Linked DNA regions of Homo sapiens: region 2 is linked to region 1. The links come from fine-mapping of genetic effects on gene expression. Tissue or cell type: breast. Region 1 holds a variant in brackets; the other region holds the start of a gene. All regions are shown on one strand. Distances are between the middles of the regions.

The links. PIP is the estimated chance that this variant, and not a neighbour inherited with it, causes the effect.
Region 2: it holds the start of MRPS10, and the variant in region 1 is fine-mapped to the expression of MRPS10 in breast (GTEx, PIP 0.94).

The regions. Positions count from the first base shown.
Region 1 is chr6:42,170,851-42,175,997 of GRCh38, forward strand. GUCA1ANB-GUCA1A (GUCA1ANB-GUCA1A readthrough) reads left to right here. Exons shown (of 5, transcript NM_001319062.2): 2 at 2,483-2,964. The coding sequence starts at 2,764. GUCA1A (guanylate cyclase activator 1A) reads left to right here and starts at 2,514. Exons shown (of 4, transcript NM_001384910.1): 1 at 2,514-2,964. The coding sequence starts at 2,764. The variant C/T (reference allele first, on the strand shown) is at 2,062.
Region 2 is chr6:42,214,912-42,220,058 of GRCh38, forward strand. MRPS10 (mitochondrial ribosomal protein S10) reads right to left here and starts at 2,950. Exons shown (of 7, transcript NM_018141.4): 1 at 2,891-2,950. The coding sequence starts at 2,938. RefSeq lists enhancers at 1,062-1,664, 1,665-2,266, 2,838-3,117.

The DNA of each region.
Region 1 (5,147 bases):
TGTGGAGAAGCTGACTGAAGCAGGGAGAACCCAGCTCCCCACCCCCATATACCTTCCGTCAATCAATTCATGTGGAGTAGAGGTAAAACAGTCCCAGTTTGTCTCTTTTTCAAAAATAACTATCCTCTTTGATTTTGTGAGCAACATATGTTCATTATGAACAATTTTTTTTTTTTTTTTTGAGATGGAGTCTCTCTCTGTCGCCCAGGCTGGAGTGCAATGGCGTAGTCTCGGCTCACTGCAAACTCCGCCTCCCAGGTTGAAGTGATTCTCCTGCCTCGGCCTCCCAAGTAGCTGGAATTACAGGCGCCCACCACCATGCCTGGCTAATTTTTGTATTTTTAGTACAGATGGGGTTTTACCATGTTGGCCAGGCTGGTCTCGAACTCCTGACCTTGTGATCCACCCGCCTCAGCCTCCCAAAGTGCCGGGATTACAGGCGTGAGCCTGGATCTGGTAAGGCTTTAACAAAGGCCTCCACCTTCCCTAGGGCCTGACTACAGCTGGTAGGTGGCCTGTGTGAGGCAGGTTGGATGTCTGTTCCTACACATAGCCCTTCTGGCCGTCCAGGGCCCAGAGTGAATGGGGCTAAAGGGACAAGAGCACGATTGGCTCTAACCCAGGGATGCTGCTGTGTCCAAGATGCAGTATAAGTGCACCTAGATTGTAGTGAACAGCACATCAGACATGCTGCTGTAATAGATACAAAATCATAACATCATAGCCAAGATTTATGGGGCACTTACTCTGGGGCAGACCTTGTTCTAAATGCTTTTCTTATATTAACTCACATACTCTTTTTTTTTTTTTTTTTTGAGATAGGGTCTCGCTTTGTCATTCAGGCTGGAGTGCAGTGGTGCGATCTTGGCTCACTGCAACCTCCGCCTCCTGGGTTCAAGCGATTCTCCTGCCTCAGCCTCCCGAGTAGCTGGGATTACAGGAGTGTGCACCATCACGCCTGGCTAATTTATGTATTTTTAATAGAGATGAGGTTTCACCATGTTGGCCAGGCTGGTCTCGTACTCCTGGCCTCAAGTGATCCACCCGCCTCGGCCTCCCAAAATGTTGGGATTACAGGTGTGAGCCACCGTGCCCAGCCCCACTTACTCCCCTTAACAGCCCTATCAGATGGGCGCCATTATTCCTATTTTAAGAATGAGGAAACTGGGGCCCAGAGAGGTTAAGTTACTTGCTCAAGGTCACCCAGCCAGTAATGTAAGCAAGAAACAAGCTTGTATTGTTTTCAGCCACTGAGATTTTAGAGTGGTTTGTTACTGTAGCATAACCTAGCCCATTCTGAAATATGTATGCACATGTATTTGATATATGTTATATGTTGTATAAATTGTATATTTATATAAATCTATTTACATGTAATTATATATTATTTATATAAATCATATAAATTGTGTATCAGTGCACAACTTGACCAAGTGTCCAAGGCCCTGGTGGGGAAAGCAGAAATATGGGCAGTGGTTCCCTCTAGATGAGTTAGGAGACCTGGGTGTGCCCCATATGTAAAGGAGGAAGGCAAACAAGAGAAAAAGACAGGGCAGGGCAAGCGCTGGCTTTAAGCTTTCCTGGCAGCATCCAGGTTAAGTGCACCTGCACCCAAATGCTGGTTCCATAAATGAGCCAGCTTTTAAGTGTGTGGCTAGGGAGTACGCATCCCACCAGGCATCAGAGAAAGCTGTTGCTGCATAGACAGGCCCCCAGGCTTGGCCTGGGAGCTTTCCAGGACCAGCAGGTAGCAGCTCACCCATGCACCTGTGTGCCTGCACTCTCACACTCACACATACCCCAGGGCACCAGGCGCACACTCCATGTCCCCTGCCCTGTGCCCCTAGTAGGTGATGGTGATGATGTGAGGCTCAGAATTAGATGGAAGGATGAATTCAGGGCTCTCAAGAAGGGAGAGATGCAACCTTCAGGAACATGAGAGTGTGGCCAGAACAGGATGAGTGTGTACGAGTGTGTGTATGTGTGTGCACGTCTCTGTGTACTGGTGCAGGCTAATGTAGGAGGGGGTTCTCTCTGGCTGTTCAAGGCTTATCTTGGAAG[C/T]CCACAGACTCTGCATCCACCCAGGTGCCCTCAAATGTTAGCACACTCATGGTATGATTGGACCCCCTCAGTTGTGATGGCCAAGTGCAGTGCACAGCCTGGATAACTGTACACAGCAGCCCTGTCAAGAGCCCACAGTTGGCCATCTCTGGACAAGAAGCCAGCTCTATCTCATATATACCTCAATTCCATGATTGAAGGCAGAATCCAAAACCACTGTGAATCCACTCAAACCAGGAGAAGAAGGTCACAAAGGTCATAGGATCAGAGCAGCTTCTAGCTGACACCCACTCCGTGGTGGTAAGAAGGGATTAGAAGATTGCAAACTGGGTTAAAAAATCCTCTCACCTACAGCTCAAGGCTGTAATCCTAAGGACTCTGCTTCTCTAAGCCTTGTTCTATTTTCAACTCTTTTCTCCAGGGTACAGTCTCCCCTGGGGCTGCAAGGATTTAGTGGAGACTCTTAACACCAGTTCTCTGGCATCTGTGAGTTTGAGTGTGGGCCATCATCTTCTTCCTTCTGCTCTCTCCCTCTCCACATTTCCCGGTACCATCTGATCCATCAGGCCCTTCTTTGCTCAGGCCTGAAGGACTCAGGCCTGTGAGAGAGGACGGCCCCGTTGTCGGCCAAGACACCTTTGGGCGAGGAGCAGCGAACAGGGCCTGTCCATCTCAGACGTCAGCCCCCTGAAGGCCTGAGCAATGGGCAACGTGATGGAGGGAAAGTCAGTGGAGGAGCTGAGCAGCACCGAGTGCCACCAGTGGTACAAGAAGTTCATGACTGAGTGCCCCTCTGGCCAACTCACCCTCTATGAGTTCCGCCAGTTCTTCGGCCTCAAGAACCTGAGCCCGTCGGCCAGCCAGTACGTGGAACAGATGTTTGAGACTTTTGACTTCAACAAGGTGAGCAGGGGCCCAGTGGCAGGGAGGGGAAGTGCTGGAGGGACCCCTCTGGAAGCCTGACCAGCTGGGGGTGAGGAAGAGCAGAGAGGAGCATAGAAGTGTCCGCTGGGGAGCAACTTCATTTATACAGTCATTTGTTTATTTGATAGGTGGGTTTTTGACACTAGGGTTTCAACGGATCTAATGTTTGTGCTTTAATGAGCACCAACTGTGAATCAGGCACTGGGGGGTTAGAAATGTATCAGACATTGTCCCTGCCCTCACTTTCTAGGGCAAGACAGAGAGGCCCACACATTAGTGTAATCCGAGGCTGAATCCAATGGCTTCCTCCACCTCTGCCACAGGCATATCTTGGTTTACTCCAAAACGAGTGTAAACACTTCCAAGATGGTCATTGAACACCTGCGATGTGCTGGTCCTATACGTGGTGCTTTTGCAAACACCCTTTGAAGCTCCCAAGGATGTGGGCAGAGGGGCAGAGAGCAGGGAGCAAGATGATGATTCTCTAGCCTCACTGTCTGGCATGGGCAGGCCACTTATAATATTCTGCGGACATGAGGACTGGAGACAGACAGGGTTGCCTGGTCCCTGGAGAACCCAGAATGCTCCCAACTTCAAAATACCCAGTGACCTCATATCACCTTTTCTCAAGTGAGCCTGAAGGTCCACACCGTGGTCAAATTGTGTCTCCTCAGTAGCCACCTGGACGCATTAGGTAAGGACTTCCTAATTGATAAGCTAGAGGGGTCACTGAAAGGTGAGTTTGGGACTGTGGGTTTGGGTCCCTAGCTTTCATCCGCTGGGTGACCTTGAGCCCATCATTTCCCCTCTCAGTCCCAGTATATTCATGATGCCGTGGATGTTGGGAGCATTAGTTAAGATGTTTGTTGGTTTTCATAGTAAATCTTCCATTCATTTGGAACTATTTGGTCAAGACATAGTTGTGGAAGAGCCCAAATCTGCAAACGTGGCTCCCCACCCTGTGGCCCCTCACTTGAAAAGTGAGGATGCAATGAGGCGCTGCCGCGTGTCCTCTGCAGACCCGGGAGAGGTTCCTTCCCTCGCTGCCCAGAAGGTCCAGGCACCATCATGGGTGGGGCTTCTTGGGAAAGCTGGGGCTCAGTGGCTATTTAAAACTCACTAATATTTAAGGATAAGGGACCAAAGTAGATTACGGGCTTTGAGTGTCAACCTCAGGTGTAGTATGAGGGAGCCCAAGGGCTTTCCCGAAGCGGGAGCAGGTGAGCAGAGTCCAGAGCCTGTGTACAGAGACTGGGAGGGATGGCATCATCACATTCAACACTCAAAATGCTCCCGAAGAAGGAATAACTCCTGAACAGGAGGGGAAGGACAAATGGATGGTTGAGCCTCACACCTTACCCCCAAACAGCGACATATCTCATCTTCTCACCTGCTAAGAAAACCCTTTGGGTTAAGACATGTCTGCAGAAGGACCCTTACAGTCACACATATGACGCCGGTGGGGGTGGGGGAGGGCAACCCTGGGGCACATCGACCCTGTATTTGCCTAATCATGTCTTTTTTTTTTTTTTTTTTTTTTTTTGAGATGGAGTCTCGCTCTGTCGCCCAGACTGGAGTGCAGTGGCGTGATCTCGGCTCACTGCAACCTCCACCTCCTGGGCTCAAGCGATTCTTCTGCCTCACTCAGCCTCTCAAGTAGCTGGGATTACAGGCACCCACAACCATGCCTGGCTAATTTTTGTATTTTTAGTAGAGATGGGGTTTCACTATGTTGGCCAGGCCGGTCTCAAACTCTTGACCTCAGGTGATCCGCCCACCTCGGCCTCCCATAGTGCTGGGATTACAGGCGTGAGCCACCACGCTGAGCCAACCATGTCTTAATGTGTGTCCCATGCGAGCACCACCTGTACTGTACCAAACCTGACCCTTGTCTTTCCACTGAAAGTAAATCAACCCCTTGTTTCTAGGCAGTCTGGCCTCCTCCCTTATTCCACACACACCCCCGCCTTAGGGGTTTTGTGCTGCCTGGGACCCTCTCTGCCCCCAGAATTCTGCTCGGCTTACACCTTCCTCTGCTGCAAGTCTCTGCTTAGAAGTCTCCTCACTAACCCCTGCCGTGATCTTCTGGTTTAAACTCTGTTTAAAACTGGGACTGGTTCCCACCTCTGCATTTCCTAGTCCCACCTTTCCCCGCAAGCACC
Region 2 (5,147 bases), 44 kb after region 1:
CAACGAACCCACATTTCCAAATCCTTTACCATCAGCTCCCCCTGGTGGAACAAGACTTTCCAGTTTTAGGAAACAAACGATACTACTACATATAACAGCTGTTTTTTCCTTTCAACTTTTCTGAGATTTTGAAGTGTAACCTGAGAAAGTGGAAACACAATAGAATCCTTAAAAACACAATGAAGATGAAAATAAGGCCAGGTGCCGTGGCTCACACCTGTAATCCCAGCACTTTGGGAGGCCAAGGTGGGTGGATCACTTGTAGTCAGGAGTTCCAGAGCAGCCTGGCCAACATGGTGAAACCCTGTCTCTACTAAAAATACAAAAATTAGCCAGGCATGGTGGCGGTGCGGTTGTGATCCTAGTTACTTGGGAGGCTGAGGCAGGAGAATCGCTTGAACCCGGGAGGCGGAGGTCCAGGCTGGGTGACAGAGCGAGACTCCCTCTCAAAAAAAAAAAAAGAAGTTTAGCATAAGTGAAGTTTCATTAATACAAATGATTGTCACCTAAGTACGTTTTTGTTTGTTTTTTCAGGGTTTTTTTGAGACAAGGTCTCACTCTGTTATCCAGGCTGGAGTGCAGTTGCATGATCATGGCCTGGACCTCCCAGGTTCAGGTGGTCCTCCCACCCCAGTCTCCCAGATAGCTGGGACTACAGGCACGGGCCACCAGGCCCAGCTAATATTTTGTACTTTTGTAGAGATGGGGTTTCACCATATTTCCCAGGCTGGTCTTGAACTCGTGGGCTCAAGCGATCCTCCAGCCTCAGTGTCCCAAAGTGCTGGGATTTCAGGAGTGAACCACCACCTAGCCACGTTTTAAAAGCCTATTCTTAGCTTATTGTCCTTCCTCTCCTTACCCAAGATAGAGACAAATCATAACTCTATAATCTTCTTTGCACCAAAGGGGAAAAGGAAAAAGGAAATCAGGTACAACACAAAGTGGTAAGAGGTATGTGCCATTCTTCAGACAAAATTGCATAGAAAATTCCCTCCCAACAATTACACCAGTGACCCCACAATCGAGTTGTGCAAGAGGAGCAAGAATATTACACTTCTCAGTCACATTCTCCCACTATAAACCTCTGCTTTTTCTTTTCTTTTTTTTTTCTTTTCTTTTTTTTTTTTTTTTTGAGAGAGTCTTGCTCTGTCGCCCAGGCTGGAGTACAGTGGAGCATTCTCAGCTCACTGAAACCTCCGCCTCCTGGGTTCAAGCAAGTCTCCTGCCTTAGCCTCCTGAGTAGGTGGGATTACAGGGGCCCACCGCCACACTCAGCTAATTTTTGTATTTTTAGTAGAGACGGAGTTTTGCCATGTTAGCCAGGATGGTCTTGATCTCCTGATCTCGTGATCCGCCCACCTCGGCCTCCCAAAGTGTAGGGATTACAGGCGTGAGCCACCGTGCCCGGCCAAGAAGTTTTTAAATTGCATTTTTTCTTTGTATTTCTTGAGAGAGAGAGAGAGAGAGAGAGAGAGTGTGTGTGTGTGTGTGTGTGTGTGTGTTGGGGGAGTGGTGGTTTGGAAGGGAGGGCTGTCTGGGTAAATTTGTCTTAATAAAGCAGTTCAAAAATTTCAATCTCTAATACCATCTGACTTTTCTCAAGAACAGTGGTTTTCAGGCCGGGTGCGGTGGCTCAAGGCTGTAATCCCAGCACTTTGGGAGGCCGAGGCTGCCGGATCACTTGAGGTCAGGAGTTCGAGACCAGCCTGACCGACATGGTGAAACCCCGTCTCTGCTAAACATACAAATACTAGCTGGGCATGGTGACGCATGACTGTAATTCCAGCTGCTCGGGAGGCTGAGGTAGGAGAATCACTTGAACCCGGGAGGTGGAGGCTGTAGTGAGCCGAGATCGTGCCATTGCGCTCCAGCTTGGGCGACAAGAGCGAAACTCCGTCTCCAAACAAAAACAAAAACAAAAACGGTGGTCTCAAAGTGTAGTCTGAGGACGTCTGTGGGGTCTGAGACACTTTCAGGGGATCCGGGAAATCAAAACTATTTTCATAAAACCAAAACGTCATTTACAACTTTTCCACTCATTCTCTTACCAGTGTACAGTGAAGTTTTCCCGTGACAGCCTGAGGTGTGATATAGGAAAAGATTAAATACAGAAGCAGATTTGAATCTAGCTTTTATTAAGCCAGAAATTAAAGAGAGCTGCAAAAATGTAAAACATTGCTGCTCCTTACTCAGTTTGTTCAGAAAATATATTTTTCATAAAGTATTAGTTGTAACATGTAATGAGTTAGTGTTACTTTTAAATCAATATATATTCTTAAGTTTTATTTTCCAAAAAGCTAAATATAGATAGCAAAAACCCACAAAAACAAAAGCTCTCTGGAGTCCTGAACTCCGAAAGTGTAAAGTGGTCCCAAGGCCAAAAAGCAGGAGAACCGCTGCTGAAAAGTTTTTGCTCCTCCTGCAAATAACTGCGCAGAGGATATCTAACCCACTTCTCTGGCTTGAGACCTTCATCTAAATTTGGATGCCAGGAAAGCATCTCAATTTAGTTCCATGGGAAGAGTCTGATATCTTGCACCAGCTCAGCCTCTAATTTTCGCGAGGCAAATTTCCTGTCTTCTCTGAGCCTCAGTTTATTTTGCAAGCGTGAAAGGAGGGGTTTTGGAACATACGAAGTACAAAATCTTTTCCAGCTCTGACATTCTACGATTATTCTTGTTCCTATCTTTGCCTGGACTCACTAACTTATATTTAATTCCATGAGAGAATTCTGATAAAACTAGCCCCTTTCTCGTCACTTTCCTGTAAACGGCGCGAGGTGAGGGATAAATATCAGGAAAAATCCTGATGGGCAGAGCGGCTGGTGGCAGGGAAACTTAAAAGCAACTATCCCGGTCAGCCCTCCTAGTCTCCCTAGCCAATCCAGTACCTGCCAGAGGCGCCGGCACACAGCACCGAACGCTGTCCGCGCCGCCATCTTGCCGGTCCCGACCTCTCAGGATTGCTTCCGGGGTTACAGCGGCGTCCTCAGACCATAGAGTTCCGCAAAAGAAGAGAGTACATCCTCATGTTCCGGCGCTGGAACAACCATAGAGACATGAACCTGTGCTTTTTGGGGGCGGGACAGTTGGCTGGCCAGGCTGGTTTGGCTCCGGCCAGTGTCTGGATAGTTACCAAGCCCTATTAATGTTTTCACCTTTAAATTGTTGTGTGTGTATACACACACACACACACACACATTTATTTATTTACTTATTTTTTCCTTTTAGAGACTGAGTCTCACTCGGCTGCCCAGGCTGGAGTGCAGTGGCACAGTCATAGCTCACTGCAGCCTCAAACTCCTGCCTCAAGTGATCCTCCTGCCTCAGCCTCCCAAGTAGCTGGACTACAAGTGCGTGCCACCACAGCCGACTAATTTTTTGTTTTTTTTTTTAATTTTCTTGTAGAGACAGGGTCTCATTATATTGCTCTCGTTATTTTGTGGGCTGGTCTTGAATTCCTGTCCTCAAGTGATCCTCTGGCCTTGGCCTCCCAAAGGACTGAGATTACAGGCATGAACCACAAAGCCCGGACTGAAACTAGTGTATTGACACCATTTACTTCAGTACTGGAATAATGGGTGATTTATTTTCCTATTTTTGCATTTTTCAATTTTTTTTGCATTTTTCAAAATTTTAACAAAATCTATATTTAACAAGAAAAAGAAAAGTCGGCCACTACCATTGGGTCCAGTTGCCACTCAGTTACCTTATTGCAGCGGCTTTCTAATTATGGTTCTTAATCCTTTCTTCCTTCCCCACACCAATTGGAATTCCTGTGCTCCAACCATTTTGTATACCGCTGTCCTACTGATCTTTCTAAATTATTCATTTCCTTATGTTACTCTAGTATTTAGGAATTTACAATGGCTAGCTTCACTTACAACAAGCCAAAGTGTTTTGTCTAATTATTAATGTCCACCATAATTTTTTCCAAGTAAAAAGATGTATAACTGGGATTTGCTATAATAAAAACTTCTTCAGGCTGGGTGCGGTGGCTCACGCCTGTAATCCCAGCACTTTGGGAGGCTGAGGTGGGCGGATCACCTGAGGTCAGGAGTTCGAGACCAGCCTGGCCAACATGGTGAAACCCCATCTCTACTAAAAATACAAAAAATTAGTGGGGTGTCATCGTTGTGTGCCTGTAGTCCCAGCTACTCAGGAGGCTGAGGCACGAGAATTGCTTGAACCCGGGAAGTGGAGGTTGCAGTGAGGCAAGATCGTGCCACTGCACTCCAGCCTGGGAGACACAATGAGACTCTGTCTAAAAAAAAAAAAAAAAAAAGAAAAGAAAAGAAAAGGCCAGGTGCAGTGGCTCGGCTCACACCTGTAATTCCAGCACTCAGCACTTTGGGAGGCCAAGGCGGGTGGATCACCTGACGTCAGAAGTTCAAGATCAGCCTGGCCAACATGGCAAAACCCTGTCTCTACTAAAAATACAAAGTCAGGCATGGTGGTGTGCACCTGTAATCCCAGCTATTTGGGAGGCTGAGGCAGGAGAATCTCTTGAACCCGGGAGGCAGAGAGTGCAGTGAGCCGAGATTGAGATTGTACCACTGCACTCCAGTCTAGGGAACAGAGCGAGACTCCGTCTCCAAAAAAAAAACTTATTCCATTTGTGCAAATCTTTAAAAATTTATTTTTATTTTTCCTTTTACTTTCTCCTCATCTTAAAGTCTGCTTCTATAATACTATATTGTCTTTTTTGTGTGTGTGTGTGAGACAGTGTCTCGCTCTGTTGCCCAGGCTGGAGAGCACTGGCTTGATCATAGCCCACTGCAGCCTCAAACTCCTGGGGTTAAGTGATCCTCACACCACAGCCTCTGGAGTATCTAAAACTACAGGTGTTTGCGACCATTTTTTATTTTATTTTTATTGTTTTGTAGAGACAGAGACTTGCTATGTTGCCCAGGCTGGTCTCAAACTCCTGGCTTCCAGCAATCCTCTCACCTTGGCCTCCCAAAGTGCTGGTTTTACAGGTATGAGCCACTGCACTTGGCCCATTTGTTCACATTTCTAAGCTTTATTTCCCCAAAGTGCTTTCACATATGCATTTTAGCCTAATGGAAAACTCTAGCCTTATAATCAGATCTGGTTTCTAATCCCAGGCTTACCAGTTAGTTGAGTGACTTTGAGCAAGTTACTTCC